Linked DNA regions of Homo sapiens: all the other regions are linked to region 2. The links come from fine-mapping of genetic effects on gene expression. A gene starts in region 2. Each other region holds a variant in brackets. All regions are shown on one strand. Distances are from middle to middle.

Region 1 (10,011 bases), 72 kb after region 2:
TAAAAAAATAAACGTAAATTTAAAAACATTTAAAAATGCTTCCAAGAACAAGAAATCAAACTCTAAGATCCATTCTTCTTACTTTATGTGATGACCACACAAAGTAGTGTGATTACTAACAAACTACCACAACAGAGGAGCACAGGACTATTTTTCAAGTTCCCATTTGCAAGTTTTATCCCATATAAGGATGATTATTTTCCAGGGGCTGAGAGATAATTTTTTTGCACCATTTACAGATCTGAGAAGCTCTCTGTTTTGGGGTTATTAACATATTGGAACATCCAGTAAATTACTTGGAGGGGAGGACGGGGAAGAAGGGGTCCAGCAACACAATAAAATATCTGAAATCAACGGCAGAATACCAAAAGGTCTGGAATCACAGTTGCTCTACATATCCTTTATTTTTGGCAAATGTGGGACAAGTTGAAAGACCTTCTCTACATCCAAACAGAGCAAGCCACATCACAAAACATTTCATACTTTTGTTTTACAACAGCACAATTTATTCTCCAACATTGCTTGGACTCTTCAGTTCTCTGGGGCCGCTGGGGCTGGGCACTGGAGGAAAGGTCTGGTGGTCTAGTTCCCGTGCCCCATCTCTGCCTCAGCACTATGTTAATGACTAGCAAGCCTCCTGTAACTTTGAAAACTCTGAAATTGCAAATGAGGAAGGAAAAATGGGTATTTTTTCAGCACGTACTATTTGGCAGGCAGCAAGCCCAATAGTTCTCTTAACAACAGTAACCTAGTGAGATGGGCACTGTTATCACCGTCATACCCGTCTCCCCCGTTTAAAGATGAATTTCCATGTGGCACAAGCAAGACTCAGGGAGGTTAAGTCACTTGCCCAAAACACTCAAATCATCTCAACCTTGTTTTCCTTCACTAGAGACCCCTGAATGGCCTCTCTGCATTTTGATTTCTAGAACAGACAGCGTACTATTCCGTGTTTTTCATGTAGGGCTTTATATACTCACTGCCAGAGGATAATGCAAGGTTTTACTAAGCAAAGTTTGGAAACAAAGAAAGATGTTTTAAATTGGTTTCCAAAGCAAGTGGTATTAGTCACAGCTGATGAGTTTTCTCATCAACAAGGTGTATCCTGTGGAGTTCAAGGCCATGGAGAACATTAATAGACCAAACTTTTGCACTTGTGAAAGTATTTGATGTGTTCCACTACACTAACAACCAGCCATGATCTGCAGGATGTGGCTGGAGGCTTCCAAAGAAACTTGTTCCATATTGGAAACTCTCAGCCCAATGTTATGTATGCTTAAGTCTGTAATAAGGTACAACCACACAAATGAAAATGTAAGGGTCAAATGAGGTCATAAAAACACAGCGTGTCCACAACCTAAATCCATTACAAGACGAAAGGCATTACGTCTTACCTTTCCTTGTCAGAATCAGTTAACTCCCCAGACATTTCTGTTTCATGTTCTAGGAGTTGAAGTTGCAGTTGATGACGTTCCTAAAACAAACAGAAACTGATATTTTAATCAATGGATCCCAAGTTTGACAGAGAATGTCTATTTAGCAATTCTAGCACTAGGGAGTCCAAGTCTATATGACACCCCCTGGGTTTTACACACCTGCTCAGCAAAGCCCAAACAAGGCTCAAAACTGCCAAGTCTGTTGTTGTGTATTTATAGATATATTTATGGGTCAGAGACAAAACATCCTAAATAAAACCATTCAAGATTCATTTTCCAAAGTATTCCATCAGCCCAGGATCAGTGAAAATTTATAGCCCCAAATACTGATTATCAATACTTTAAACTGGTGGCTTGTGATACTGCAAAATTCTTTATTATTTTCTGAATCATCAAGAAAAGAGGCTCTGGGATTCTGGCAATATCCTATATTCTAACTTGTGGTGTTTACACAGGTGTATTCACTTGTAAAAATATGTTGTGGTCAGATTCATGGCCCTCCAAAGATGTCCATGTCCTGATTCCTGAATCCTATGTGTTATCTTACATGGAGAAAGGAATTCTGCAGATGTGATTAAGTTAAAGATCTTAAAATGGGGAGATCCTGGGTTATCCAGTTGGGCCCTTCTAAGGAGGAGGAGGCAGCAGGGTTAGAATCAGAGAGAAGGAGCCTGGAAGATGCTCTGCTACTGCCTCTGAAGCTGCAGGAGGGGGCCACAAGTTGAGGAGTACAGGTGGCCTCCAGAAGTTAGAGAAGGCAGGGAAATGCATTCCCTTCTAGAGCTTCCAAAAGGAATCCAGCTCTGCCAACACCTGGATTTTAGCACTTCTGACCTCTAGGAATGGAACATAATACATTTGTGTTGTTTTAAGCCACTAACCTTGTGGAAATTTGCTATGGTAGCAATAGGAAACATACGCGCACTAAGCCGTGCACTTTGTACACTTTGCTATATATATGTATATTTAGAAGTTTGCCCAAAAAAGAGTCTGGAATCATTTCTTTGGACAAAGCTGAAAAATGTTCATAAAAACATGGTGCCTGTCATAACCGAAATTGTGCTAAAAATACATTACAGATGTTAGTGTAACAAATTTCCTTAAAATGCAAGTTTATCAAATAACGCTCACTAATTGGGAGATTATTTTACTTTAGGTCCTTCTCTAAGAACTAATGTTCCTCATCTTTATGTTCGGAAATTCCACCCAGCAAACTCTTACTAGCTACATAGATTCCAAACCTCTTTTCTACCAAATTATTAAAAGCAAATCTTTGAAAATTTAACTGCCACAACTTCTGAAGCTATAAGCAGTGGTATACCAAGAGGTAGGCCAAAGGGGTGGGGAAGCAGTCCACCTTAAGCAGGAAGAATATATTATCTCTGAAATATTTAAAATAACAAAGGTAGATCAACTTTGACTGGGGTTTTGTTACTGTTTTTAAATCTCTACAGCAAATGCACATTCTTATGGCCTGGCCTGAGCAGAACATTCCTCCTGCCCCTATGTGGTTGGAAGTTTTACATTAGCCCCGAAATAACAGTGATAAAAGCTTTCACAAGTGAATGCCTCCCTCCAAAAAGAAAAAAAAAACAAAAAACAAGAAAGAAAAAGGCTGTCATAAAGTAGAGCAAGGTCTAACTTACAGCACACTTTTAAAATTTGTTTTAAATTGAGGTACAATAAATCTTAAGTGTACACTGCACAATTATTTCTTACATTTGTAAACACCTGTGAAACCACTGCCCAGATTATGGCATAGACTATTATCTGTTCCCCAGAAGGGTCCCTGGTAGAGAACACTCCTTAAAAGATTTTTACTGATCAGAAAAAAAGGTGTTTGAAATACAGTGCTCAGCAAGAGAAACAGTAAACTAAGGCATATGGCAGAGAAGCCATTCAAAAGCACATGGTTTGTCCTTGAGCAAAATCCAAAACTGAGAGCAGGATACGTACACTGCCACAGCCCTGCCTAGGACATGCCGTTCACGTAGTGTGAGACAGCGATTTGGCCAGATTCCTGCTCTCACAGATTTATCCCTGAAAAGGAAACAGTGTAAATTGGCCTACCTAATGTTAGTTCAATAAATAGAGCATTTCTCTAGCCTAAATGGAAAGGAAGATTTAGAGAAAGGACAATACATTTCCAATCACTAAAGAAGAAGCCAACACCACTTGGGGAAGGTTTTGTGTTTCCTAAATGCTGGCAGGGAGGGCTGGCCTTACCAGCTTCCTGGCTCTACCCATTCATCCCACATGAGGGCTCCATGTGAAAATCAGTGGGGAAAGACAAGAAACTTTCAGAACCTCAAGACAGCAATGAAGATAAGCATAAAATGGGTCGTGCTAAAGACAACCTGACTCTGAGGGTAGACATTTAGGCAACCTCGTAACAGAGTAAAAATCATAGCCACAAATGATCGAACCCTTACTATATACGAGGAACCATGCTTAGCACTTGGCGTGGATTTTTCTCATTTATTGCTCACAAAAGCCCTAAGAATAAGAAGTACCATTATCAGCATTTTACAGAAGTGGAGACTGAGTTAGGAAAAACCAAGTAAGTGCAAACAACTACAAAGAGACACAAGATTCAAATCCCCAGACTGTCTGATTCTAAAGCCTATGTTCATGACCACTACCTGTGGTTTCTCTGTATGACGGCATCTCCCCCAGACCACCCTGCTATGCTGCCGGCTCACCTTGCTTCTTTACGCTGCAGAAAAACCTGCTGCCCAGAGAGAGAGCATCTGAGTTAACTGGGATCTTCTGCTGTTGTAGGAGGACAATAATGTGGGAGGAAGCTCACTCAAGCTCTAGAAAGCTCCCTTGTTGCCCAATCTTCACCACCACCCCCTCTGGTCAATACTAATGTTAGTCCTGACTAAGCCAATCACCTACTCTTCAATAAAAGATGGGATTCTGTTTTCCCAGGGGGTAGAAGGGAGATTGTAATTGACTCTTTAGTTTGCCCAAGTCTCTCCCAAGTAAAAAGCTAAAGAGCTAAAACGAAGCACCCAGTGAGCTCTGAAGCTCCACAGAACTGAATTTCATGCAGTTCCCATAGTGGCGACACCTCGCCTTATGAGGGGACAGTACAGGGGCTTATGCTGCAAACACCATTAGCTAAGGCGACCTCTTCTCAGCATCACATGAAGCCTGACAGTGACCTTGCTCTTGCTGCCCCACCTCTGCCTCCATCATCAGATTGGAGATTCTTGGCATCCCGAATGAGTCACAGGGTGCTAATAATGTCAGGGTCTTGGCAGGTCACTGCTCTCTGCAAACTCATATGCAGCCAGGGAGCCATTCCCAGAAA[C/G]CAGCCACAGACTTGGCCCTGAACTCCTGGGTCCAGAAGTCAGCCGTCACCTGCTAAAGGTCACCCATCCTTTCTCTTCCTTCTCTTCCTTCTTTTCCTCTTTCCTTTCTCCCACCACTTCCTCCCCTTCCTCCACTTCCTACTTAATTCCTGGCCTCTTCCCTTTCACTAGACAGGCTTCATTATCCCAGCTGAGCTCCCGCCTTCCTCAGGTTCCCCCACCACACTCACCAGCCTGCTTACAACACCTAGAGAAATGGGGCCTCCCTACTCTCTCAAGTCCCCAGCGTGTCAAGGAAAAGCCAACCCTTGAGACACATGCCCCAGAAACAACAGGGCTGCTGTGTTGATGTAACACCTAAATAGGGCTTGATAATTCAATGGATAAACTAAGTTCACACCTGGGGCACCAGCAAAGCAAGGCTGCTAAAATATTAATTTTTCTAAAGAATTTCACAAGTAATATTTTTTAAAAGCATCAAAATAGTTATCATGGGAAAAATGAGAACGTTGTTGGACTTCCTTATACTTTATTTTATAGCTTTGTCTTTTTTTTTTTAATTGCAAATTTTGGAGGTGAGAGGAATCCATATCCAGGGCCTCTCGTATCTCAGATGGACCTACAGGGAAAAGTTTGGGCAAGTGGGCAATAGGCCCAACGCTGTGTCCTACCTTTTCCATGCGCTCAATCAGCCTGTCCAGCTCCCCGATCCTCTGGTCTTTCTCCTCTAGGCTGATCTCTGCTGCTTGCATCTTTTTATTGGCTTCTTCAATCGCTTTCAGAAAACTATTGGTTTCTTCCTGCAAAAGAAATATACCCTCCTAAGTACAGGCATGGAGTACCGAGGCTACTCACCGGGATCCAATCAGCTCAGGCCTTGCTAGATCACGATTTCTCTTTAAAACATGACCTTGGAACCTGAAAGTGTCTCACAGATCATGAACTCAACCTCACGGTTCTGGTTCTCACCTATGAATAAAGATACATCATGTGGCTGGTTAATGGGCCTCACTACATTTTTTTCCCTTTTTTCCCTTAAGTCTTTATATCCAAAAGGTGTAAAAGAGGCCTACAAATGTTTAATAACATTGAGTAGATGCTCAGAATGTCACTGTATTTGCCAGAAGTGTAAGGGAATTAGAACCAGATCTGGAATTGAATGCAGAATTCCCAGATCCTTCTCCCATAATGCAATACATCAGCTCATTACTAACAAGAAAACCCAGTCAATCATCAGAACATGTATTAAGCCTCTACGGACACAGATGAGCCAGACATGGAGTCCCCGCCTTCAGGAACTTATAATCTCCTGGAAAAGCCAAGATGTGAGACGCACAGCCCCACTCTAATGGCAGGTATAAAAGAATTCCAAAGTAAAAGCAGAGAGAGAGTGAGTGAGCTTCCTAAGGACAGATAATGGTTCTGGCTCCATGACTGGAAGAGACTCCAGGCATGGAGAGAGTGGCATTTAAGGCTTTTAGGGAGCTTAGGCAAGATCAAAGATAGGGAAGGAGGAAATTTCAGGTAGAGAGAACCAAATGGAGGGAGGGAGGGCACAGCTGCGGGCAAGCCCAGGGTTTGCTTAGATGCTGGCAAATTGTCAGATGAGCTAGAAAAAGGTGTGTATTTAGAGACAGAGACAAGGGGCTATTCTGAGTAGAGACGGGGATGAATAAAGGCAGAGGGGAAGAGGGGAGGGGAGTGAATGAGCAGATGAATAATTCCTTGATCCCTTACCCATGGCTGAGTCTACTGACCCACCTCTAAGAATAAACACTACTACGTATACATCACCAACAATAATGAACCAACAATTCCCGGTAAGTTTACATCGGCAGCTACAACACACACACCAAAAGAGCCTCCTTCTCAGCACTGTGCTTCCTCTGTTCTTCCTGCAGCTTCTCCTCATACTGGCTGTACAGCTTCTTGGTCATCTCTCGCATCACCTCAGCATTGGCTTCTTGGGACGATTCCACCTACAACGAGACTCATTTCAGAACGACAGCTTTTGCAGGGCCCAGAGGAATTGGCAGCTTCCACTGCACATTTCATGTGGGGACTCACAGAGGTAGTGAGCCCATCCACTGGGTTCTGCAGCAGAGAGACACAGCAAGACCTAACAGGGAAAGGGAGGAAGAGGGGTGAGCAGAGCCACAGAAAAATAAAAGTGGCATTTCACACGAATTTTGGGGGCATTCTCAGGACAAAGGTATGCTCCACATGAGTGACTTTTTCAAAAGGTAGAAACTTATTTCTCTACGCAATCTCATCAGTTGCATTGGCCAAGCCAGTTTCTAGGTAAGACCAGCTAAGCTCAAAGGAGAAATCTGGACTCACCCTTTCCATACCCTTGTGCTTTCCTAAATGTTGCTTTTGGAAACATTCCAACCTAGCATGGGGAACACTAAGCTGGCACCCCTAGTACTGAAGCAGGCCTGGCTTAGGAGGTGAGAAAAAGTCAGTGGAGTTGCAGGTGGGCAGGGCTTAGGTTGGTGGTGGCTGGTGCCTCCTGTTTGCCAGGCCACGTTCTCACACACAGACTTCCCGCCATTGATTTTATGCTGCAGAAGGTTTGCTCTCATCCCCTCCTTCCAGGTTATCGCCTATTGCAGAGAGCTGAGTTTGCTGCATACCTAAACTCTGGAAAAGGGAAGCATTCTTCAAACTCAATAGGTTACATGATGTTATTTCCAAGATGTGACAAGTCTCTCTTGACGCCCTTGACTTCTCCCTTCTCATCACTGGGTAAGTGTTGGCACCAAGAAGTTCCAAAGTGGAAAGTCCTGAGCAGAGCTTATGACCAGCTGAGAGAGACCCTGTGTGCTGTGTGCTCCATTTGCAGTGCACGCACAGCTTGCTGGAAGGGCTCTGTCCCTGGAGGCCCATTCACTCTGCATCCAGGTCATGTAACATACCCTGAGTTCCTGAAGCTTTTTTTTTTTTTCCCAATTTGGGGAGTAAAATAGGAGGAGTAGGAGAAACCTTTTTAACTCCACTGTCAGGATGAAAACAAGCATCAGTCTCTAAAACAGGCAACTGTGGGCTGGAGTTAAAGGCCTGGACTCCAGGGAAGCAGCCAGATTGCCAAGCAGCCTAATGATGTCCCCAGATGCCTGGTGACAGGCCACCTCTGGAACCAACAGGACTGAACAGGACACACACATAGAGTAGACACTCAATAAATATTTGTGGACTGAATGATTGAATAAATCCCCTAAGCTGAAAAAAATTACTTAAATCAGTAATTTCAGGCTTTTTTAGCAACATAAACTTTTTTCACCCCCCAAGTAACTCTTACTGAGAAAGTAACTCTTACACGGAAAAGAAGAGCTGCCCTATTAGAAGTGAACATACAGAGGAGATGATCTGTCCCATGGCTGTGGCAGGCCAAGTGAACTGGCAGCAGATCCCCAGGGCGGCAATACAGAGACCGGGCGGTGGACCGGCAGCCCCTCTTCCCCACCCAGCCTACCCCTGTGAAGGGGCCCACACTTCCCAGTTTGTCTCCCTAACTAAATTACCAATAGTACCACCTTTCACTCCCTCACATATTCTGCTTTGAGCAATAAACTATGTGGATACGCTACTCATAAGATAGCCTAAGTCTGTGCTGAGCAAAATTTTCAAACCACAGACTTACATAAAAAGGAATTCATCCAAGATATAATTTATTAAGTGCCCTCCAGGAGCCATTCATGGATCTGCTCCTGTCACCGGGTAGGAAGTCTATCCACAGTTTAAATTTGGGAGGGGCACTAATGCCTCTAGGGCATTAGAAGTTCAGCTAAGGAATGCTCCCAGCCTAGGGGGCCAAATGGGACATTCCCCAGTGTCCCTAGTCACCCACCAATTTTCTTCTTGAGAATATTGTACTTGGGGTACAGCCCAAGTACCAGCTATTTGTGTGCCCCTCAGCTCTTTATTGTCAAGCCAAACAGAAAGGCCTTGGGACCTCAAAGAAAATCTAAACAGTGAAGGAAGAGATCTCCAAGGCTTCTGACGTCCCAGATCTGTGGGCATCCCAAGCGTCTTCTCAGTTACATAACAACAGCACCATGGTGAGTGTCTAAAGAGCCCTTGAAGGGACTGGAGGCCAAGAAAGGCATGCCCAATGGGGGCATTTATGGAGAAGCCCCAAACTGGGCCAAGCACGGTGGCTCACGCCTGTCATCCCAGCACTTTGGGAGGCCAAGGCAGGCGGATCACCTGAGGTCAGGAGTTCGAGACCAGCCTGGCCAACATGGTGAAACCCCTTCTCTACTAAAAATACAAAAATTACTGGGCAAGGTGGCACGTGCCTGTAATTCCAGCTACTCAGGAGGCTGAGGCACGAGAATTGCTTGAACCCAGGAGGCGGAGGTTGCAGTGAGCCATGATTGTACCACTGCACTCCAGCCTGGGTGACAGAGTGAGACTCTGTCTCAAAAAAAAAAAAAAATCCAATGAAGAAGAGAATGGAGAAAAGGAAATGGAAAGGTTGAAGATGGGAAGAGAAAAGGGAGAAGTAAAGAGGAGAAAAGTTCATAGAAAATAAATCTAGGCTTTTATACTCCACCTTCATTTTTAGCAGCTGGTTTTCAACTTGCGCTACCTCCAACTGCCTCTGCTTTTCCCTCAGCTTGTCCATGGATGCTTCATACGTCTGCTGCAGATTTCTGATTTGATCCTTAATGTTGCTGTTTTCCAAAGTCACATCCACGAGGGTTTTCTGTGAGGATGAAAATAAAAACAAAACCAGATCCGGTGGCGTGAAAACACATGGGCTGCACCACATGCTGGGGCATCCCCTTATCATTAAGCACTGGGGTAGCTGTCCTAGGCTACAGCAACTGCCAGTCTGGGACCCTGTGCTGTGAGGGACTGTGGGTCTCCCATGGTGGCCAAGAGGTCTGCCCCTGTAGCTTGGAGGGACTGAAAACCTCTCCCATACCATCCCATAGCTGCTGCCAACACCACTTGCCACTGCTTAGGATGGATGGAAATGGATTAAAATGGAGTCCTTCCAAGGAAAAGTATTATAATACATCATTTCACATGGGAAAAAAAACAGCTTTTGAAAATAGTAAGTATAGTATAATCCCATTTTGAAAAATATGTATAAGCATTGGTTCAAATATATGTTTATGCACTGGGGGGAAAAAGACCAGGAGGAAATCTGAATGATAGTTTTCACTATGTGATAGGGCTATGGGTATCTATTTTCTTATTTATTTTTTCTGTATTTCCCAAATTGCCACAATGAAATCAGAAAA
Region 2 (10,011 bases):
TGAGAAAAATCGAAGATACCTTAGGGGAAGAAAACCGAGAAGGTGGTGGCACTATTAGGGAATATGGAAATCACCTTGGAAAGAAACTGCAGTTCCACTTTGTACATCATTAAGCTGAGGTACCTGGGAACACCCAAGTGATCAAGTTTCATGGTTAATTGGCTATGCAAACCTAAAGTTCTGGGAAGATCTGGGATAGAGGTGCACAGGGGTCAGCCTCCAGCATCCAGGTGATACATGAAGCCAGAAGAGTATGCAGAAGGAAGAGCAGAAAGGACCCAAAGGACACTACCTGACCCCACCTTCCAACCTCCAAGCCACCTCTCACACGGAACCCTCTCAATCCCTACCTGTCTATGGCCTAAGGACTCCTCAAAGCCCTGCCTTTCCTGTTCTCCTCTAACTTATACAGGAGGCTCCCTGTCTCTTAAACTTCCTGAATTCTTGGTAGCCCTCTTCACTATTCCCTTACCTCTCTCCCACTCCCAGCTAAATGACCATAATACAGAACTGGGATTAATGTATTCTTTGTTTTATTTATTGACTAGATGATGGTTCTAGTTTTCTAAAATGTCATCCTGGAAGTGAAGAAAGATACCCCACTGTACACAAGAGAGTACTTGATCACGTTAATGTAGTATAATCCTGATTTTCTATACAGCAGAAATAAAATGTTTTGAGGTTAAAATGAATGCTGGGGTAGAATTAAAGTCTAACAAAAAAGAAGCATGTTTTAGATACTTTTCACTAGAGGTTTTCTGTTTTTCAAAGAAAGGTAGTAGTGATTTAACTTTGATGTTACATACTTGTAAATACAATATAGGAAGAAGGTACCAGTTACCTGAGTTGAATGTTACATTTGCTGCAAGTAAATAGCAATTATTTTCAAAAAGATTTTACTTTTCCTGAAATTTCAGAAACAAATTTATGGCAAGGAACTGATAAGCAGAGTTTTTGCCTATCCTGCCTGAATCTATTTTCACAGTTTTTCAAACCTCTTCTCAGCTTCCTTCCCCCTGAAACTGTTATTATTATGTAGCTTAACTCTTTTCCAAGTGTGTAAACCTTGGGTCCTCATGTAGCTCTTAAACTCCTTGAAGAACATGGTATTGTATTACATTACACATGTATACATTACAGCCATGTTTTTAAACTTGAGATTTAACATCAAAAAAGGCAAAGGAGTTTTAAGAATCTTGACTTAATTGTGTCCCCACAACACCTGCTGCTTGCTTACATACAGTGAGCATGCAAATAATTTCTGCTGGAAAGCCCATCAGCTCCTGCAATTGCTTTACCCTTAGTTCACAGACTAATCAAAGAGAGTACACTTTGATAGTACACTAATCAAAGCTGTACACTAAAAAATGGTTCTGAAAAAAAGAAGTCATAATAAATTCTCTCCAACTCTGTGTTTATTATGAAATACTGGCTAAGCATCCTAAAATTTAACACTCCCCCATGTGCTTTAAAAGACCTTGTCGATTATTTGGTTTCAAAACTAAATATTTTTCAACATGAATCTTCTACTCCGGCCAGGCTGGTCTCAGTGTTGCCACAACATGTTATTTCCTAACTACAAGTAGTTCTCATACAAAGCCCACGGAACTTAGAGCATTCTCCTGACTTATTTAAGAGAAAAGGTCTTATTATATTGCCCAAGCTGGTCTACAACTCCTGGACTCAAAGCTGTCTTCCCACCTCAGCCTCCTGAGTAGCCTGGGACTACAGGCAAGCACCACCACACCCAGTTTCTCGTAAATTTTTGAGTTTAACAAATATCACGTTCCTGTTACAGGCCTGTTTCCGAGGGTACTTACACATTGGTTTTAAATTTACGCAGCTGGGGCACTGGGTTTTTGGCTCGCATTTCTAGCACTTCCATGTAATGAGGTTTCTTCTCAGTCCCACTGGAAAGGCCTGTCAAGTTCTTAGTACTTGCGTTTTCTTCTGACTGTTGTTCACCTTGGTCCGCAATGGTGATCCTCTGTAACCTGTCAATAAACAGGTTGTCAAAGCTGCTGGAAGTATCTTCCGCTTGACTTGAAACACGATGCCGCGGGTGATGCTCACTAGCTTCAGATGAAGGTGGTACCCTGTCTCTATTGCTGGAAGCTGGGCCCTTATTCACTGTGTACTCAACCTCTGAAGTCTCTTCATCACCTTCAAGAGTAGGACGTCCAAGTCCCTGGTTTTGTGAGGTTTGAGATGACTTGATGTTATCTACAGAGGAACATCCAGGAACTAGTGATGAAGTATCAAGTATCGGGTCAGAATTCTGGGCCTTATCTGTACCCACATCAACTTCTGCAATTGCTTTTTGCCTTAGCTTACAGTCTAAACTAACAGGGTTAAACAGTTCACTTTTTCTTCTAACTTCTTCACATTCTGCAATGGCAGCTTTCAGTTTGGCAAAAGAGTCAAAGATCTTTTTACCTTTGTCGGGCAATTTGCAAATGAATTTTCTGTCAAATGGAAAAGAATACTATTACATTACAGCCATTTTTTTAACTTGAGATATAACATTAAAAAGGCAAGGCATTATCTTCAAAGAAAGAAAAGCTGATTTTTAAGTCAAATATCTGATTTCTAACTGCCCCAAAACAAGAATAAAACAATTAAAATGGTCATTATCCAAATAGCCCAAAAAACAAGGGAATGCAGGAAGAATAGGGAATATATGCCTCATTTGTCTCAGCAAATTAGAATTTCAGCAAAAGTATTTTAAGCATATAATAATCACATAAGACATTCCAAGAACCAGCAGTCATTAAAGTGCAATCTCCAAAATTTGGGGATGGGGTGGAGTGTGGGGATGGGCCTATTAGGTCAAAACTACTTTCATAATAATACTAAGATATTATTTCCCTCTCATTTTCTCGCATGGGTACAGTGGAGTTTTCCAGAGGCTACATGGCATGTGATGACATCATTGTTCTAGAATAGAATGTGTGCTTGTGTATGCTTATGTTTTAAAGACTTCAGACGTATTTCTGATAAGTAAATACATTTCGCTAGATACAACACATAAAATAGCTCTTTGGGATGTCAATAATTCTTAAAGTATAACGGAGTCCTGAGACCAAAAAGTTAATTCACTGCTATACATTCAAAACCTATTCTCACAAGGTCAAAACACATGTCTTGATCCCAACCAATTATTTATTTGTCCCTTTTGCTGGATGACAGAGTTCCTTTTCTGATTCCCTTTTCTTTAACTATACAATAAATGGAAAGAAAAAATTACACCTTAAGTCCTCTGTTCTTTTTGACACTACATTCATCCCCACAATTTCAACTATTAACAACACTCTACAGCTGAAATTCCTGTTTTCTGTATTTTTCCAGGGTTCTCTCTTTCTTGAGCCTCATGACTACTTCTCCAGCTTTTAAGTGTTTGGTTTTCGATTAACCAAATGTCTGTCCTGCTCTCCTCTCAACTCTGCACACCCTAAGTAAAATCAACCTTGGATCTATTCCTCTCCCTGAATTTTCCTATTTTTGCTAGTGGTCTTCCATATAGATTGGAAACTTCAGCCATCTCTGTCAACTGCATTTAAATTAGTCCATGCTTAAAAGTTCTCCCAATCCCTTCCTAGCTCACTTTCTTACAAGTGTCTCGTGGGAAGTCTCTCTGAAAATATCCTTCTACTGTCTTCTGCTTTTTATTCCTTCAAACCATCTTTTGCAACAAGCTGCTGAACAAAGCTGCCTAAAAAACAAAATCACTTTTATTACGTGGCTCCCTTGCTAAAATCCGTTCAACCAGCCAGCTGAATGAGGGTCGAACTTTCCCGGCCTAATAAACCCCTCTTCATATCCCACTCTTCCCATTTCCTACGGTTCCTGTAAGCTTAGAATCCAGAGATGAAGCTGACAATCTGTTATGGGTTAGGGGTGCGGGCGACAAAAGGGTTTAGAAAGCAGACTCATGGAACCACCACAGTCCCCGGGTAAATAAAACCGACCAGGGGCTACTAACTCCCTGCAACGCCAGGTAGCCGTTCAATCCGAGCTATCCTCGCAGGCATACGTGCCTGGCCAGGAAGAGGCACGGCTCTGCCGCAGCAAGCCCTCCGTCCACTCGCCCGTAGGACTGAAGCGAATGTGACTGAGTCAAAGTCACCTTCCAGGGAAGGGAACAGAGTGCGGGAGGGGAGGGGAGCGCCCAGGGAGCTCGAGCTGAAGGAGCCTGGCGGAGACTCCGCGGGACCCCAGCTTACTCGTTGCGCAAAAGTCTCTCCTGGCGCTTCAACATTTCCCGCAGCTCCACCAAACTCCGCTGCGCCAAGTCCTCGGGAGCTTGGGGCTCGAAGCCGCGGGGCAGCGAGCACATTCTGCGCGGGCTGAGGCTGGCGCGGCGGCGGGCACTCGGCTTCCTCGGCAGGCCCCGCTACTAGCGCCGGATCCGCGGACGGCGGTGACTCCGGGGCACGAGCGGGAGTCGCCATTTTCCCGGAAGAACGGGGTCTTCTTCGAGCCGAATCGAGCTTTATTGAAATTCCGGAAACAAACACGGACTGGGAGAAGGGGGCGTCCGCAGGAGCGTTAAAGGGCGGAAGTTACGTCGGATGACGCCGGCTCCTTGGCTTGGCGCCCTTTCCCCTTGTGTGAGCATTCATGCGGTCATCAGCTGTTCGTCGGTTTATACAAAAAGTATTCAGCGCCAGCGTGACCTCACCAAGCACTATGTGTCAGTCAACAAATAGCAACGTCCTGTGTTATACTTGGGGTTTACAGAGTTGGCGGGGGGATGGGGGGAGGGAGAATCAAATTATGATATAATAGTAACGTTGGGATGGGCACCTGGGAAGATATCTCTGAGAAGTGGTTCAAGTCGAAACTTGAAAGATGAGCTGGCCATTAATAAGGTGGGAGAGAGTGCGGGACAGGATTTGGGAGACTCTGGCCTGTGCGTGGTGCCTCCGGCCTGTGCGTGGTGCCTCCTAGCTCAGCTTAGGGACGTCCTGAAATTGTTAAAGTTGGAAGGTTCCTCAGAATCAGCGATTTTTCTTGGGGCTCAATGCATTTGGAGAAGGACTTCATTTGTAGCACCGCCTCAAGCATTGTTAAGACATTTGGTGTTTCTGGCTTCTGCCTGCTAGGTGCTATGGCACTCCCAAGTCATTGCAACAATCCAAAATGTCTCCTCCAACATACATTTCCAAAGGCCCACAAGAGGTGATGAGGGAGTGGGAGCAGCTGTACAAACTCGTTGAGGACCTTTTCGAATTTTCTACTTTGCCTATAGAAAAACAGAGGCATGAAAACTGAAATAAATATTCCCAGGGCACAAAACCAGTAAGTGACAGCACCAGATTTCAAACTCAAAAGCCCAGCCCCTTTTCCAACACACCAATTTGAAAATCCCCTTCTTCACTTTAGGCCTATTTCCAAATGTGTAAAACTGTTGAAAAGACTTCCCTCCGCCCCCCCCCACCCCCGCCACCTCCCCAGCTGTTGAGAAGAAGGCAGCTTAATAGGTATTGGACACAGCTTTTACCTTCTCGTTATAGTTCAGCTACCAGAGGTGCATCCCAGTGGAAAGAGTAGGAAGACATGCAGTCACAGCAGATGTCACTTGGGAGGTTTGAACACCCCCATAACCCACCGCCCTCCCCCGATTTTTTGATATAGGAAATTGAAGTTGTCTCAATCCTGTGTAAGATGCTATATAAACACAAGCAGCTCTGTCCTAAAGAGACAGAAGATCTAGGTAAACTCCAAAGCTATTCCAGGGAGCACAATTGCAACCATTTATCTATCCCCCCAATCTGGTCCATTCTGATCAGATTCATTAATATATCAAAATAAGTTTTCTCTGTATAAGACTTGCTTTCAAGGACGTTAATAACGTGCTGCAGCATTGGCTGAATGAGAAATAGGTAAGGTCCTCGAGTCAGGTGGTTGTCTGTGGTACTGACAAAAAAAAAAAAAAAAGACTCCGTAAAATGTTGAAGAGATGTATTCTGTGCCAAATATGAGTGACCATGGCCCGTGACACAGCCCTCAGGAGATCCTGAGAACACGTGCCTAAGGTGGTTGGTGCACAGCTTGGTTTTATACATTTTAGGGAGACATGAGACATCAATCAAATACATTTAAGATAAACATTGGCTTAATCCACAAAGGTGGGACAACTCAAAGCAGAGCGGGTGTGGGGCAAGATGGGCTCCCAAGTTATAGGTAAATTTAAGTTTTTTTCTGATTGGTAATTGATTTAAAGGAATGTCTAGGTTAGCATAAGAACTTGTGGAGACCGAAATTTTATCATGCAGATGAAGCCTCCAGTTAGCAGGCTTCAGAGAAAGTAAGTTGTGTTTCTTATCAGACTCAAGGTATATGTGTTGATATTAAATGCTGTGTAGCTTTTCCTGGATTCTAAAAGAAAGAAGGGCATAATGAGGCATGTCTGACCTCAGCTTCCCATCATGGCCTAAGCCAGTCTTTTAGGTTAAATTTGGAGGACCCTGGACTACAGGAGGAAGTCCATTCAGACGGTTGAGGGCGGACCTTCAAATTTTATTTTTGGTTTACAGTGATAAGCACCCCGCAAGCCTCCCTCACCCCACCCCTGGACCCCAGCTGGAGGCCTTTATTTCTCCCACAGTAGTGAACTCCCCATGTGCTGATTGTAGGCCACAGGTGTCCCCAAGGCAAGGATGCCTTTCTTTTAGGCCTCAGAATTTTGCCCCCTTCTGTTACCCTTTTGTGGAAGGCTATCTCTTCTCCCCTTGCCAATTGTAAGTCTTGGCTGAAGTCTCACCTCCTCCCTGAACCTTCCCATGTTATTCCAAACCAAACTTCTCTTTCTTTTCAGCACAATTATAGGGCTTAGTTAAAGTTGGAACCTCACTGCATGAAGCATATTATACTTCTCTAATTGTGTTATGCATCGAGATTTCTTTTTCCTTTCCTAACAAAATTGTAAAGTCCTTTCTGTGAGGGAGCTATAATTGTACTTTTTCTGTCTCCTCTCAGGAACATAGCATGTAGTAATTGACACAATCTCCTTCTCTCATATTTTTTTCTCTACCTTTCCCCCATATTCCTCTTTCTCTTAATGAAATGTTTCTTATATGCAAATCTTAAGCTTTTTATATAATTAATCATCATTACTGTGTAGATTTTTCAGTGGTTTGGGATAGAATCTTTTATACAGTATGGCTTAGGGCTTCAAGATATCATAATACAGATCTAAATTCCCACCAGCATCCAAGCACAAACTGTCTAATTTTGTCAGTAACCAGGAAGCATGGCAAGTGGAAAACATCACTCTACAACAGAAGCAGACTACTTGCAGCCTATTTACACTTCAAAAGGAAAATAGGCAAAGTATTCTTTTATAATTTATGAAACAAAAAATAAATATCTAGGACACAAATTTTCACAGCAGTGTCTAGAGAAGAAGATATAAAATGGAGAAATTTAACAATGGAGAAATGAAGACTAAAGAGAGAAACAATGAGTGCTACAGGTTATACCTGTTTGCAGCTGAACCAAACACTTGAAAGGAAATGGAGCCCACAAACCACAGACAGCTAATCTCTGCTAAAGAATTCCAGTTGCCTGTCAAAGAGCCCATCCGTTATAAAAATGAATCTGGGCAAGTGTTTTGGGGTTTTTTTGTTTGTGTTTTTCAGTGCTCATTAAAAAGATGAATCACTTTTCCAGTGGTACTTGGATTAATCTCCTGAATGTTGCTCTCAGAGTAAACTAATAAATTTGGCTGCGTTTGAAAGGAAGGAAAATTCAAAACAGAATTAAGGGAAAGGAAAATTTCATTAGTCACGTGAGGTGCTGCCAAGATGACCTATAGACATCCCACTGCCACGAAGCTACACAAGGACACTGAACAAAAACAAGACCTGGGAATGATTTCCACTTGTCCTTACCTAGTTGAAGATAAAAACTGACAATCAATTGTAAAACTGATAAACATAAATGTTTAGAATTTCCAGGCTGTTCTCCTCTGTTTTCTTGCTTTGATTGTCATTGTTGGGGCATGAATGGCCACAAAACTGGCCATGATATAGTTGGAGTTGACCAGAATGGCAGCAACAATATTTCCCATCCTAAATGTGTTCTTCTTGCTATGTGAGTTTAACACTCCTCCTGTCAAGAAATGGGGTTATTCTTCTCTATCCTTGAATCTGGGCGTGCTTATAACTAGAGCAAAAGTGATTTTTCTAGTCTAGATGACAAAAGGTGATGCAACTTCTACCTAGCTTTCTTGAAGTGCTTACTCTTGGAACTCAGCAAGCAAGCCATGAAGAAGTCTGCATTTGCGTAGATGTTTTGGCTATCATCCCAAGCTGAAGTTTCAGCCAACAGGTAGCATCAACCACCAGACATGTGAGTGAGCAAAACTTTGGATAATTTCAGCCCCAACTGTCCAGTCACTTCCAGCCTTCACGACATCCAAATTGAAGCCTCAGACATTGTGGAGCAGAGACATCTTCACTATGCCTTTTCTAAATTTGGGGTCGTTTATTAAACAGCAGTAGTCACAGGAACTTTATCCAAGGTTAATCCCTTCAGCTATACTATGGATCCCATCTGTTCTTGCTTCTTTGGAGATCTCATTCATTTGTTCAGTAAGTAAATATTTATTGAGCGTCTATCACAAGTGAAACGCTATTCTAGGATTTGGTGATATAACGATGAATGAGGTAAAGAAATTTCCTGTTACATTGAAACTTTTATTCTATCAGTACTAAGAGTCACATAGAGAATTAGTACAGAGTGATTTGATAAGGAGTGACTGGTAGACTACTTTGATTGGGTGACTGAGGTTGGGTTTTCTGAGGAGGTAACTTTTAAGCTGGGACTTCAAATGACAAATGATCAACTGTGGGAAAATCTGATGGAAAAACATCCCAAGTAGAGGCAAGAGAAGATACTAAGGCCGTAAAAGGAGAAGGAGCTTAGCATGTTCAAATAACAAAAAAAAGCAATGTGGAAGGCTGGGGCTAGATCTAGCAGGGCTTTGTAGACCAGGATATGGAGTTTGGATTTTACCCTAAAAGAAATGGGAAGCCACACGTGGTAGACAGCCTCTAGGATGGCCCCCAGTGTCCCACTCCAATGTAATCCTCTCCCATGGAATGTTGACTGGACTTAACTGACTCACTTCTAATAAATATGGTAGAAGTGATGGGCACCACTTTCCAGATTAGGGAATAAAAGATTTGAAAAGACAGTTTACCAAAGAAGATATATAAGTGAAAAATAAGCACATGAAAGAAGACCAGTGTTATTAGCCATTAGGAAAATGCAAATTAAAAATACATGGAGAAGCTGGGCATGGTGGCTCATGCCTGTAATCTCATCTACTCAGGAGGCTGAGGTGGAAGGATTGCTTCAGCCCAGAAGTTCAAGACCAGCCTGGGCACCATAGCAAGACTCTATATCCAAGAAAAAATAAATAATAAAATCACAATGAGATATTAGTACATGCCTACCAGAAAGACTGACCATTCCAAGTGTTGTAAAGGATGTAGAGCAACTGGAACTTTGATACACTGCTAATGGGAATGCAAAATAGTACAACCTCTTTGGAAACCAGTTTGGCAGTTTCTTAAAATATACCGTTTGACCCAGCCATTCTTCTGCTAGGTATTTACCTAAGAGAAACAGGTAAATGAAAGCATATATTAATAGAAAGGCTTGCACATAAGTGTCATTGCAGCTTTATTTGTAATAGCCCAAAACTTGACACAATCCATTAGTAGGTAAGTGGATAAACACGTTGTAGTCTGTGCATATGATCGAATACTCTGGTACATGCAACAACTCTGATGAATCTCGAGTATACTGAGAAAGAGGCCAGGAAAAAATTACACACCGTATGACTCCATTTATATAAAATTGTAAAAAATACGAACGCATCTATAGTGATAGAAAGCAGATCAGTGATTATCGGATGTTGTGGGGTGTCAGGGAGAGGCTGGGAGGAAGGATGACAAAGGGGCAGGAGGAAACATTTGGGAGTGACGGGGATGCTCAATA
Region 3 (10,011 bases), 130 kb after region 2:
TCAGGCACAGAGCAAAAGGTTCAGGATAGGATGACCAACACGGTCCAGTTTGCCTGGATTTTCGGTTTTAGCACTGAGTCCTCTATCTAAGGAAGCCCCATTGGTCCCAGGCAAACCAGAATGGTTGGTCACCCCAGATCAGAGCAGCCAGCAAAGATACAAAAGCAAGACCAGACCCTGATATGAAGAAGGGATGCTGGGGACACATGCGGAACAGTGACTCCAGAAGAGTGGCCCAGACAGAAAGCCCAGGTATGAGGACCAGGACAGAGAAGAGAAACTGGACTTAAAAAGAGGTGAGGTTAAGTCCCTTCAAGGAGGTTAAAAGACATTCCATTTATTTTTTTTTAAATCTGTAGTCAAATAAAATTGGTAAAATCTAGGTTAAACAAAAGCAGGCAGGTTTAAGACAGTACACACTGCCCTAGTGTGCATGGAGCGTCTTCAAAAGAAGAATAACTATTCAGGGTTTTTCCAACTTAACTGACCACAGGGCCCTCCCAACCCCATGGAATATCTGCCCTAATAGAGCCCATAGGAGGCCAGCAAAATGCAAGCCCAGGTGGGGACAGATACTGCTTAAAGCAGCCTTTCAGGAATATGCCTTATCTGGAAAGAAAAGTTCGTTCATACGGAGACTGATTAGCTGGGTTAATCATTGTCAGGCTAGAGAGCCAGATGGAAGGACAAAGTCTCCATTTTAGACCTCATGGCCAAAGGGGGGCGGTGCAGCCTCCATCGGAGGGATGGGTCTGGAGTCAGCCATTTATCAGAGATTAAAGTACTGAGGCTAAGGACTGTCATTTGTCATACCAAATGTCTCAAATGGACATCGGCTTACCTGGTGACCCTCTATTCAGAGAAAGGAGGGGCCCAACTAACCCAGGAGTGGGATTAGGAGAAGCAATTTTCCCCAGCCTATGGCCGCATTAACTCTGAACGGGTGCAGAAAGAGGGTGAGCTGCCCTGAGAGTGACTTCTGTGGCTTCCGCATTTATCTTCATCTCGATTGGAGGGAAGCAGCTGGATCTGATCTGGTGGGAAGAGAGAGGACACACAGAGGGTTCTGGAACAACACTGAACCTTGACATGCCTGGTGCTGGCAACGCAAGCTCACTGGGTGCTTGGCCTTGAGAAGAGTTGTTGGAGCATTTCTGGGAAGCTGAGTGGCAGCCTCCTTCAAGAGCAGATTTGTGTTCCTAGGGACAAGCCACTGCAGGAGAACAAAGGTGGATAAGACCATCGAGGGCTTAGGTTTACAGTTCTCGGCCTGTATGACATACAGCGTGGTGGAAAGAGCATCAAATGCAGGCCAGGGAGCCTGGGCTCTGGCATATCTGTGTTGACCTGAAGTTATCACCCCTCTGGGGCTTTACACTCCCCCATAATAACTGAGAGCTTTGGAGCAGATGCTCTCCAAAGCTACCTTTTAGCTTTGACATTCCCAAAGCATTGTTAAACAATGTGATTCCCAAACATTTCTTTGTTGTTCTTTATTCAAGTTATTGACTGTTATTTCCTCCAAATCTTAAGCAGTTTACTCTTATTATAGGTCAAGCCTCTGCCACTGGGCAGAGTTGCAGGTTAGGTTCCCAAGAAAACTAGATACAGCTCCCCTCTTGGATGTTTAGATCGAAAGACAGGAGAAGCCACCTGCACCCAACCTACATCCTACACTCTAGTAACTGGGACGATTTCGACTTTCCAGAATGTGCTATGTGTCTCCATGCCTGTCTTTGCTTGTGTTCCCTGGAACACAGACTCTGAGGTGGGGACTTGTGTGCAGTAGGGTTTTTGGGGAGTACTCTTAGGAGACTCCCTGTCCTGGAGTGAGGATGGCAGGACTGGTAGAGGGAGGAGCTGAACTGTGATGCAGCCACACCAGAGGCCTCAGCCAGTTCCATAGGGAGCTCTGGAGCAGGATGGCTCTTCAGATTTGTCCTCAGTGTGGAGAAGGGAGCTGAGCCTTTGTACCTACCTGTTAACCAGTCCCTGGATTCAGGCTTGCCCTGAGGAAGGGACCTAAGATTGGGGAGGCAGCTTACTCCAGTCGAGGGCAATTCCTGTGGGCCATCGGCATCCTCCATCACTCCCTGCAGCTGGGTGAGGAGGATGTGGGTGGCACGTCGCAGCATCCACTGCAGAGTCTTTGCTCATCTCCTCCCTCCGCCATGCCCAGACGCCTTCCCCTCCCATCACTGCTGTTGTGCCTCTCCCAGCATTTCACTACTTTTTGTGTAACCAAGAAGTCCTCAAGGATAAGACTGCCTTATGCATCTCTGTTGCACCAGACTTCTACATCTGAAAAGTAGCAAGAAGGAAATAGAATATACTGAATCGATGAGGTCTCTGCATCAGACTATGGGTTCAAATCCCACGGCTACTCATTATGAGAGTACTCAATTTCCTTCCCTGAGCCTCAGTTTCTCCATCTGTAAGATAGGGGAAATTGTCATTTTCACTGTCTTTTAAGGTGGTTAGAATTAAATGAATGATATAAGTTAGACATCTGGCACATGGTAAGTACTTAATTAAGAAGAGGAGCAGAGAGGCTGTCTCCTGTAGCCTTTTCTCACTGGCTTATTAGGGAAGATCTGGAAGGGGAGGAGGAGTCAGGGAGGAAGAAGCCGTGGGCAGCTGTGACCATGAGTGGGCATCCTGGGGGAGCCATGGGCCCTTAACAGTGTAGGGGCAGGGGGGAAGAAATGAGGCCAATCCCCCAGGGAGTGTAGGCTGGGGGTGTGATCCCCTGACTATGGACAGCTGGGAAGGTCCTGACATGGGAGGGAGGGAAGTTGAGGGGAAGACCTGAGGGCAGGCTCAACCCCAGCCTTGAGCTTGTGTCCTGTTTCAGAGCATCGTGTCTTAGCCCTTCATCAGACATTATCTTCACAAAGATCTCTGAAAACACTCACTCCATGGTGTTTATTATCCTCCCCAAACAATGTTCTCAGTGAATAAGCAGACAGACATATCATAAATGCCAGGCGTTTCCTCCCTCTCCCGTTTAGATTTCAGGACAATGCATTTATCACTGTTTTATCATATGGGCCACCACATATACTTCTGAAAACAGAAAGCAGCCTGCATTTGAGGGGGCTAGAGAGCCTGACCGCCTGTATCCTGTCTCCTATGGGGCCGGATACCCCACTGCAAGCCCACTTCCACTTCCTCCATTCCCTTCCTCAACAAAACTATCCAGAAGAGAAACATTTTCCCATCTGGAGTGGAGAGAGACCTTTGTCCTGCCTACATGAGGGTGAAAGGGGAAGGCACCCTGTGACTAGACACTTCTAACTCTCCAGCCTTCCTCGCAAATTTCAATGAAGCCTCCACAATCTTACTGTTTAACATGATTATATTCAGATTGTGGGCATTTTATATTAAATGTTATGATATTTTGCTTAAGATCCTACAGAGTACAAATAGATACACACATGTCTTGCGTTAAAACTTTACTTAGAGTAGTAGCATTTGTCATAAATACCTGGCTAAGATGAAACCTCCTCGGTTCAGCTGGCTCGGCATATCATTCTGTTTGGACAGTTTGAAATGAGGGTCAGAATAGACCCTAACTTCAGCCAACTAAAAAGTTGTAGCCTTTCTCGCTGGCCTATTAGGGAAGATCTGATTATTCTATTTCAGGAAGAGGAACAGGAGAAGGAGTCAGGGAAATAAATTGCACTACTTTGCAGAATTGCATAGCTTCCTTCCTTCCTTCCTTCATTTATTTACTTGGCCATCTCTTCGTTTACTAACTCAATGGACATCCAGTTATTGAGTACTTTCAATGTGCCCAGTATTGTCCCAGGGTTGTAGGAAATACAAGGATGCATAAGACTCACCATTGCCCTGGAGAAGCTTGCAGGTGGGAGCGGGGCAGTGGGGAAGAAAGGCAGGGTTGCATGAAAGAATTATGTGTTTGTGGACCTAAGAGGGTAGTAGAGAATGTGAGACAGACAGGATGGCATGGACGGGGTTGGGCTAGCCCCACACTCATAGTTCTTATGGTTGCCATGAATTTTGCCATTACATTTTATCCTGAAAGCGCTAGGAAGCCACTGAAACATTTTAAGCAGAAAAGTCCAATAAGACAAGACTGTAAGTGGCACCACCAACTATGAACGAATGAGGGGTGACGGTAAAGAACATGACCTATCCAGTTTATAACCCAGGCATGAAAATGTGCCATAAAGACTCCATAAATATTTGTTGAATAATCAATGAATTCATGAAGATGTTTCAGAATAGCAGGGGAGATGTAATTTCTGGAGATAAGAGGATAGGAGGGATTGGGACCTTCTGGAGTCTGGAAAAGGTTTGTAATAATCACAATAGGAATCCAAGAGATAATAAGAAAATGATGAATAAAATGATTGCCAAGCCGATCAACATTATTAGCCATCAGGGATATGCAAATCAAAATTACAATAAGACACTACTTCACATACATGAGTGGCTATAATTAGAAAGATAATAACAAGTGTTGGTGAGATATGGAGAAATCAGAACCCTCATTTGCGCTGGTGGGAATGGAAAACTGACTGATCACTTTGGAAAACAGTCTAGCAGTTCCTCAGATGGTTACATATAGACTTAACATAGGTCCAACAATTTTACTGTCAAGTATATATCCAAAAGATACATACCAAAGATATATATATATAAGTCCACTCAGAAATTTGTACACAAATTCTCATAGCAGCATTATTCACAACGGTCAAAAAGAGCAAACAACCCAAATGCCCATCAACTTATAAATGAAGAAGCAGTATGTAGTATGTTCACAAACAGCATGTTATTTAGTCATGAAAGGGAATTGAGTACTGATACATTCTACAAGATGGGTGAACCTTGAAAACATTATGCTAACTGAAGAAAAGCCAGTCACAAAGACTATATCTTGCATGGTTTCGTTTGTATGAAATGTCTGTAATAGGCACATCCAAAGAGGAAAAAAAAAGTATATTAGTGATTGCCCAGGTCTGGAAGGACTCCTAAAGAGTATGGAATTTCTTTTTAGAATCATGAATATGTTCTAAAATTGATTGTGGTAATGGTTGCACAATTCTGTAAATATTCTAAAAACCATTGGTTTGTACACTTTAAATGGGTGAATTGTATGGTACGTGAATTATAGCGATACACATATTTGTGGATAAAACTTTTACACACACACACACACACACACACACACAGTGATTGCCAGACCATGGGGAGTCCGGCAGGGGAGTAAGTATCATGACTTTGTAGCGGAGCCAATCAGTCTGATTTTCTTACTTTCTCTGAGCAGTCTCAATGGTTGAGGGGAAAACAGCACATGAAAAGAACAAGTCAGTAATAAGCAACAAGAGTTAACAGTTGCTGAGAGCATCTACAGACCAGACACTATAGAAAGCTTTGTCCACATTCTCTCATTTTATGTTACACATGTCTATGTACATATATACATATATATTCTATCACATCCTTCCAATAAGGTAGATGCTCTCATAAAGTCAATGTTGCCTCCCTGAGCGTGGGAGCTGGAGCCAGCGGCTTGAGTGGAGGGTGATATGTTAATGCACCAGGAGGGGCCCAGGCACCTGTAGTCTCAGGAAGGGTAAAGAACTGGTTCTGAGAGTGGAGCAATGGCTTGCAGAGCTGCACATAACCTGAGGAATTAGTGGTTGCCGCTCTGACTGTGAGTTCTCAGAGATGGGATAGTTTGAAGCATGGTG[C/T]CTTCCAAGCTGAGGAGGAAGTGGGGCTGAACAAAGGGCGAGGGGTTTGGTCACAGGGCTGTGACAGCCATGACAGGTTGCTCATCATCCCCAGTGGCGACATGATGGAAGTCTTCCAAATCTCAAAATTCTATGAATTTCAAGGGGATGGACATGTCGAGGACACATCCCTGGAGGAAAGTGAAGGGGAACTCCATCACCTACCAACCAAATGTGGAGACGGAACATGCAAGAACCAGGACCCTGACGAATACAATTGCTTCTGTCAGTGGTTCCCAAACTCTCCATTGCCAAGGACATCTTTCAGTCACACTCGCTATGAATAGCACATTTGGAAAGTTTTTGTCTATCCAATTACATTTTAATGAGTAATTAATTTGTTTTCAACATTTCTATTAATCAAGGAGATTAACAATTGCCAATTAGAGCTTCTAACGAGCTGAGACCACCAACCTTGCCTGGCTGGATTGCTGTTGGCCCCAAGCCAAGAAGCAATGATCCCATCAGCCAAGGCAGCAGTGCTTGGGAAGCTGTACATTTTCTTTCCGTCAAGCTTTTCAGAGTAGCGGAATGGCCTGCAGGTCCCCATGAGAACATCACCAGGCCCAAAGGGTGCATAGAGCCTTGTGTCAGGAATCATTGTCCTCATCTTGTCCCCCATGGCCTGGGCCGTCTTGCCAGCAGGCAGAGCAGAGGGAGGGGCAGCTATAGGTTGGGCCAGGATTTGCATCCCTGAAGGACAATGTGGTAATTAACATTAAACAGAGGCTAAGATATTGAGATTTCATACGCATCTTTCCCCAAATTTCTAAAGTTGTGCCAAGACTGTGTGATTTTGTTCTTTTCAATAAAGGCAATCTGTTAGGTTTAGAGTCTAGAGGGGAAAACCAAAAGAACGTGAGCCATTTTTGTAATTTTAATCTTTCTAATAGCCATATTTATTGACAATAAAAGGAAACAGGTAAACTTGATTTTACTCATATATTTTATTTAACCCAATATATTGAAATATTATCATTTAACATTAATATTATGTTACTAGTAAAATAGTAATGAGATATTTTACATTTTCTTGTACTAAATCTTCAAAATTCATCGTGTATTTTACACTCAGGTCATTTCAATGTGTACTGGCTACAATGTGAGCACTCAATAGCTGCAGGGTGGTAGTGGTTACAAAGCTAATAAGAAGAGGAACTGGAATTGGGACCCCCAAGGGGGAACTGGGACCCTGTTCCGACCTCCAAGTCAGTTCTGTCCCTGCTGCTATGCAAGAACTATTTTTGTTCCAACACAAGTAAATGACTTCTCTGAAGATATCCTTAAAGCTTACCCAGGCCAGCCCCCCACCCAAGGTGGAGGGGCCTATTGATGTGGCCTGGAGTTCACGGGAACATCATAGCACAAGATAAACTCGCTCAAAGAAGACATCAGGGCCAAGATGACAGACTTCAGGGCTACTCGCTCTGTTGCCCAGGATGGAGTTCAGTGGCTCAATCACGACTCACTGCAGCCTCAACCTCCCTGGGCTCAGGGGATTCTCTTGCCTCAGCCTCCCAAGTAGCTGGGACTACAGGCATATAGCATCACACCTAGCTAACTTTTGTATTTTTTTGCAGAGAAGGGGTTTCGCAAACTCCAACTCAATTAGATGAATTCTGGCTCCATAAGAAGCATGTGTTTCCCACTGGGGCCTCCCCTCCGACCTTCCAGAACTTGGCACTCAAACTAGGTATATCTTATCCCTTCCCCAAGTCCCTGTCTAGCTGCTCTATCCACGTACAAACTCAGAGGCTATTTTCTACCATGCAGACTGGGATTCAGAGGAAGAACCTGACACAGGCAGGGGAAGCAGAGGAAGCAATGGGGAGAAAGAACTTGCAGGGTTCCTGCAATGTCCCCATCCCTGATTCAAATTCCCTGTTCGTGGGCTCTGTGAGACATCCCTCCAACCATAGAACAAGTTCTTTCTGCCACTTGAGGTCATCTCAGTGAGTTTTGGATGATTGCAGCCAATTGACCCTAACAGCTGGGCCTCACTCAGAGGCCCAGGAGTGGGCTCCAGTTGAGCAGAAGCCTGCGGCCTTATTTCTGCTTCCTCTTCTAGATGGCAGTAGGGCCACCCCAGTTTGTCCCCACATCCCATCAGCATTTCTGAGGATTTTGTTCAGTCGTATTACAAGTTTACTGGGGTCCTGCCATGGAGGACCTAAGGCCTCTGTGGGCCTCTGTCCTGTCTACTCCACATTCAGAGCCCTGGCTCTCTTCCTGTGAGTCCCAAGCTGCCCATCAAGTCTTCTCTGATCCCCAGTTGGAACACATGCTCCTTCTGCATTCCCACCCCTGTTACTGCATCCCAGGCTTCACCGTTAAGCTCCTACTTCCTTCTGTCCTCGCTTTCATTGGAAAGCTGATTGGATAGCCAGCTTCCTCACTTAGTTGTGGGTAAGGACAATATTAATCACCTTTTATTTTCTCAGGTTTCTCCCCACACATCTCCTTCCCTGTGCCTACGAAGTAGTAGGTGCTCAAATGTGTTGACTGAAGGAAGGACAAGATGAAAGGAGAAAAGGAGTGAAGGAGGAAGCAAAGAAAGGACGCTTCAGCCACTTAGTTAAAGTATAAGATAACATCTAGTGTAATTCAATTCTAGACCAGACTGCCTGCAGGAGAACCTCACCAAGAGGAGCCAGCCAGCAAGGGAATTGCAGCCTGCATGGTGCAGACAAAACAGCCCCGGAATGGCATCTTTTTCAGGGAAATCAAAAGGTCTTAAGCAGCGAGCTCCCATCATTCAGATCCTGAATGCTCTAAGGGGATCATACAACTGCAATTCACTTCTGCATATGCATCTATTACGGTGTTCACATCTGAGTGCAGCACAGAAACAGTCTTTTTTTGTTGTGTTTTTGTTTGTTTGTTTTGAGATGGGGTCTCACTCTGTCGCCCAGGCAGGAGTGCAGTGGCTCAATCACGGCTCACTGCAGCCTCAACCACCTCAGGCTCAGATGATCCTTCTGCCTCAGACTCCCAAGTAGCTGGGACTACAGGCACACATCACCACACCTGACTAATTTTTGTATGCTTTGAAGAGATGGGGTTTCACCATGTTGCCCAGGCTGGTCTCAAACTCCTGAGCTCAAGCGATCTGCCTCCCTTGGCCTCCCAAAGTGCTGGGGTTACAGGTGTGAGCCGCCACACCTGGCCCAGAAACAGTCTTTAAGAGGGATGTGGATATTCAAGAATTGAAATTTAGAGACTCAGAAAATGGACCTAATGACAAACAAATGTTTTTTGAGAGCCTAACTGTTTCCAGATGCTCCACTGGACACTGGGAATCCAATGGTCAGCAAAATAAGCACGGACCATACACATGTGGAGTTTGTAGATTATTGAGTCAACAGCACACATCAGAAATTGACTCAAAAAAATTAAAATCTAAAGGCAAATAAATGTTAAGCAATTATTTTGAGAGGCAAAATTGAGATAATAGAATAAGGTTTGGATTCAGACCAGAATTGGGTTCAAATGCTGATTTTGCAACATTTAATGAAAAGAAGACAAAATTATACACACACATGGTTTTAAAAGTCCAGTGGTTCTACAAGTTTATAATGAAAATTAGCACCCTCTTGCCCCTTGATCCCCATTGCGTAGTCACAGCCACTTTTAACTCTTTAAGCTATTTCTTCTGGTATTTATCATCATATATTTCAATTACACACTTATATGGCCATATCTGGATTTTGTTTAAATTTTAGATCCCATCTAGTGACTCTCCATGTGGAAACTGAGGTTTTGGTCTCTTAAATCTTCCTCCCACATGCCCCCTCATTCTTCAAATACAGCTATATCGTAATTTTGTTTAAATCAATAATCACGGCTTATGCTCTATGACCGCGTGATCATCAGTCACAGGCCATGAAGTGCATTTTATAGTAATATTTTCTTTCGTATACAACTTTTTGTTTTTCCTGAAGCTAACAACTATCACCTTTTCTCCACTTATTTAGCTTTTTATGTATTAATACTTATCACTAAGTCATCACTAGCTTTCCTTCAAAAGTGACAGTGTGTCACATGACCAAACTCATCCGGTCATATGTCAACAGCATTTTTTTTCTGGAGACAGCCTCCACCTCCACTTCCCGGAAGAGCTCTCTAAACTCCTGCTCCAGCCTGGACTGGTGGGGCTCCAGGCAGCCCCATGGTGCCATCCTGGGGCTTCGCTTGCCATCATCCAGGGTGTCCTCTGGGCATTATCTCCTGGGATGCGTTACCTGCTTCCTTT

Alleles and levels. Positions count from the first base shown, and alleles are read on the strand shown. Sizes are in standard deviations (SD) of each study's normalised expression.
In carriers of allele G in region 1, the expression in skeletal muscle of the gene that starts at base 4,465 in region 2 tends to be lower than with C alone (small effect, 0.14 SD a copy in GTEx).
With allele T in place of C in region 3, the expression in visceral fat of the gene that starts at base 4,465 in region 2 is higher (moderate effect, 0.52 SD a copy in GTEx).

What was found.
Region 1: its variant is fine-mapped to the expression of POLR2M in skeletal muscle (GTEx, PIP 0.97).
Region 3: its variant is fine-mapped to the expression of POLR2M in visceral fat (GTEx, PIP above 0.99). The same link has a PIP of 0.9 or more in subcutaneous fat.

Annotation. Positions count from the first base shown.
Region 1 is chr15:57,629,158-57,639,168 of GRCh38, reverse strand. It overlaps GCOM1 (GCOM1, MYZAP-POLR2M combined locus), which reads right to left. Exons shown (of 17, transcript NR_104371.3): 6 at 9,315-9,467; 7 at 6,610-6,735; 8 at 5,428-5,556; 9 at 1,395-1,474. It overlaps MYZAP (myocardial zonula adherens protein), which reads right to left. Exons shown (of 13, transcript NM_001018100.5): 6 at 9,315-9,467; 7 at 6,610-6,735; 8 at 5,428-5,556; 9 at 1,395-1,474. Among named protein-coding and RNA genes, the nearest start is that of MYZAP, 42 kb to the right of the region's middle. The variant C/G (reference allele first, on the strand shown) is at 4,756.
Region 2 is chr15:57,701,168-57,711,178 of GRCh38, reverse strand. It overlaps POLR2M (RNA polymerase II subunit M), which reads right to left and starts at 4,465. Exons shown (of 4, transcript NM_015532.5): 1 at 4,224-4,465; 2 at 1,821-2,465. The coding sequence starts at 4,336. GCOM1 (GCOM1, MYZAP-POLR2M combined locus) reads right to left here. Exons shown (of 17, transcript NR_104371.3): 13 at 9,465-9,626; 14 at 4,807-5,245; 15 at 1,821-2,465. RefSeq lists a silencer at 3,981-4,030 and an enhancer at 4,351-4,570.
Region 3 is chr15:57,571,715-57,581,725 of GRCh38, reverse strand. No RefSeq gene overlaps it. Among named protein-coding and RNA genes, the nearest start is that of GCOM1, 15 kb to the left of the region's middle. The variant C/T (reference allele first, on the strand shown) is at 5,721.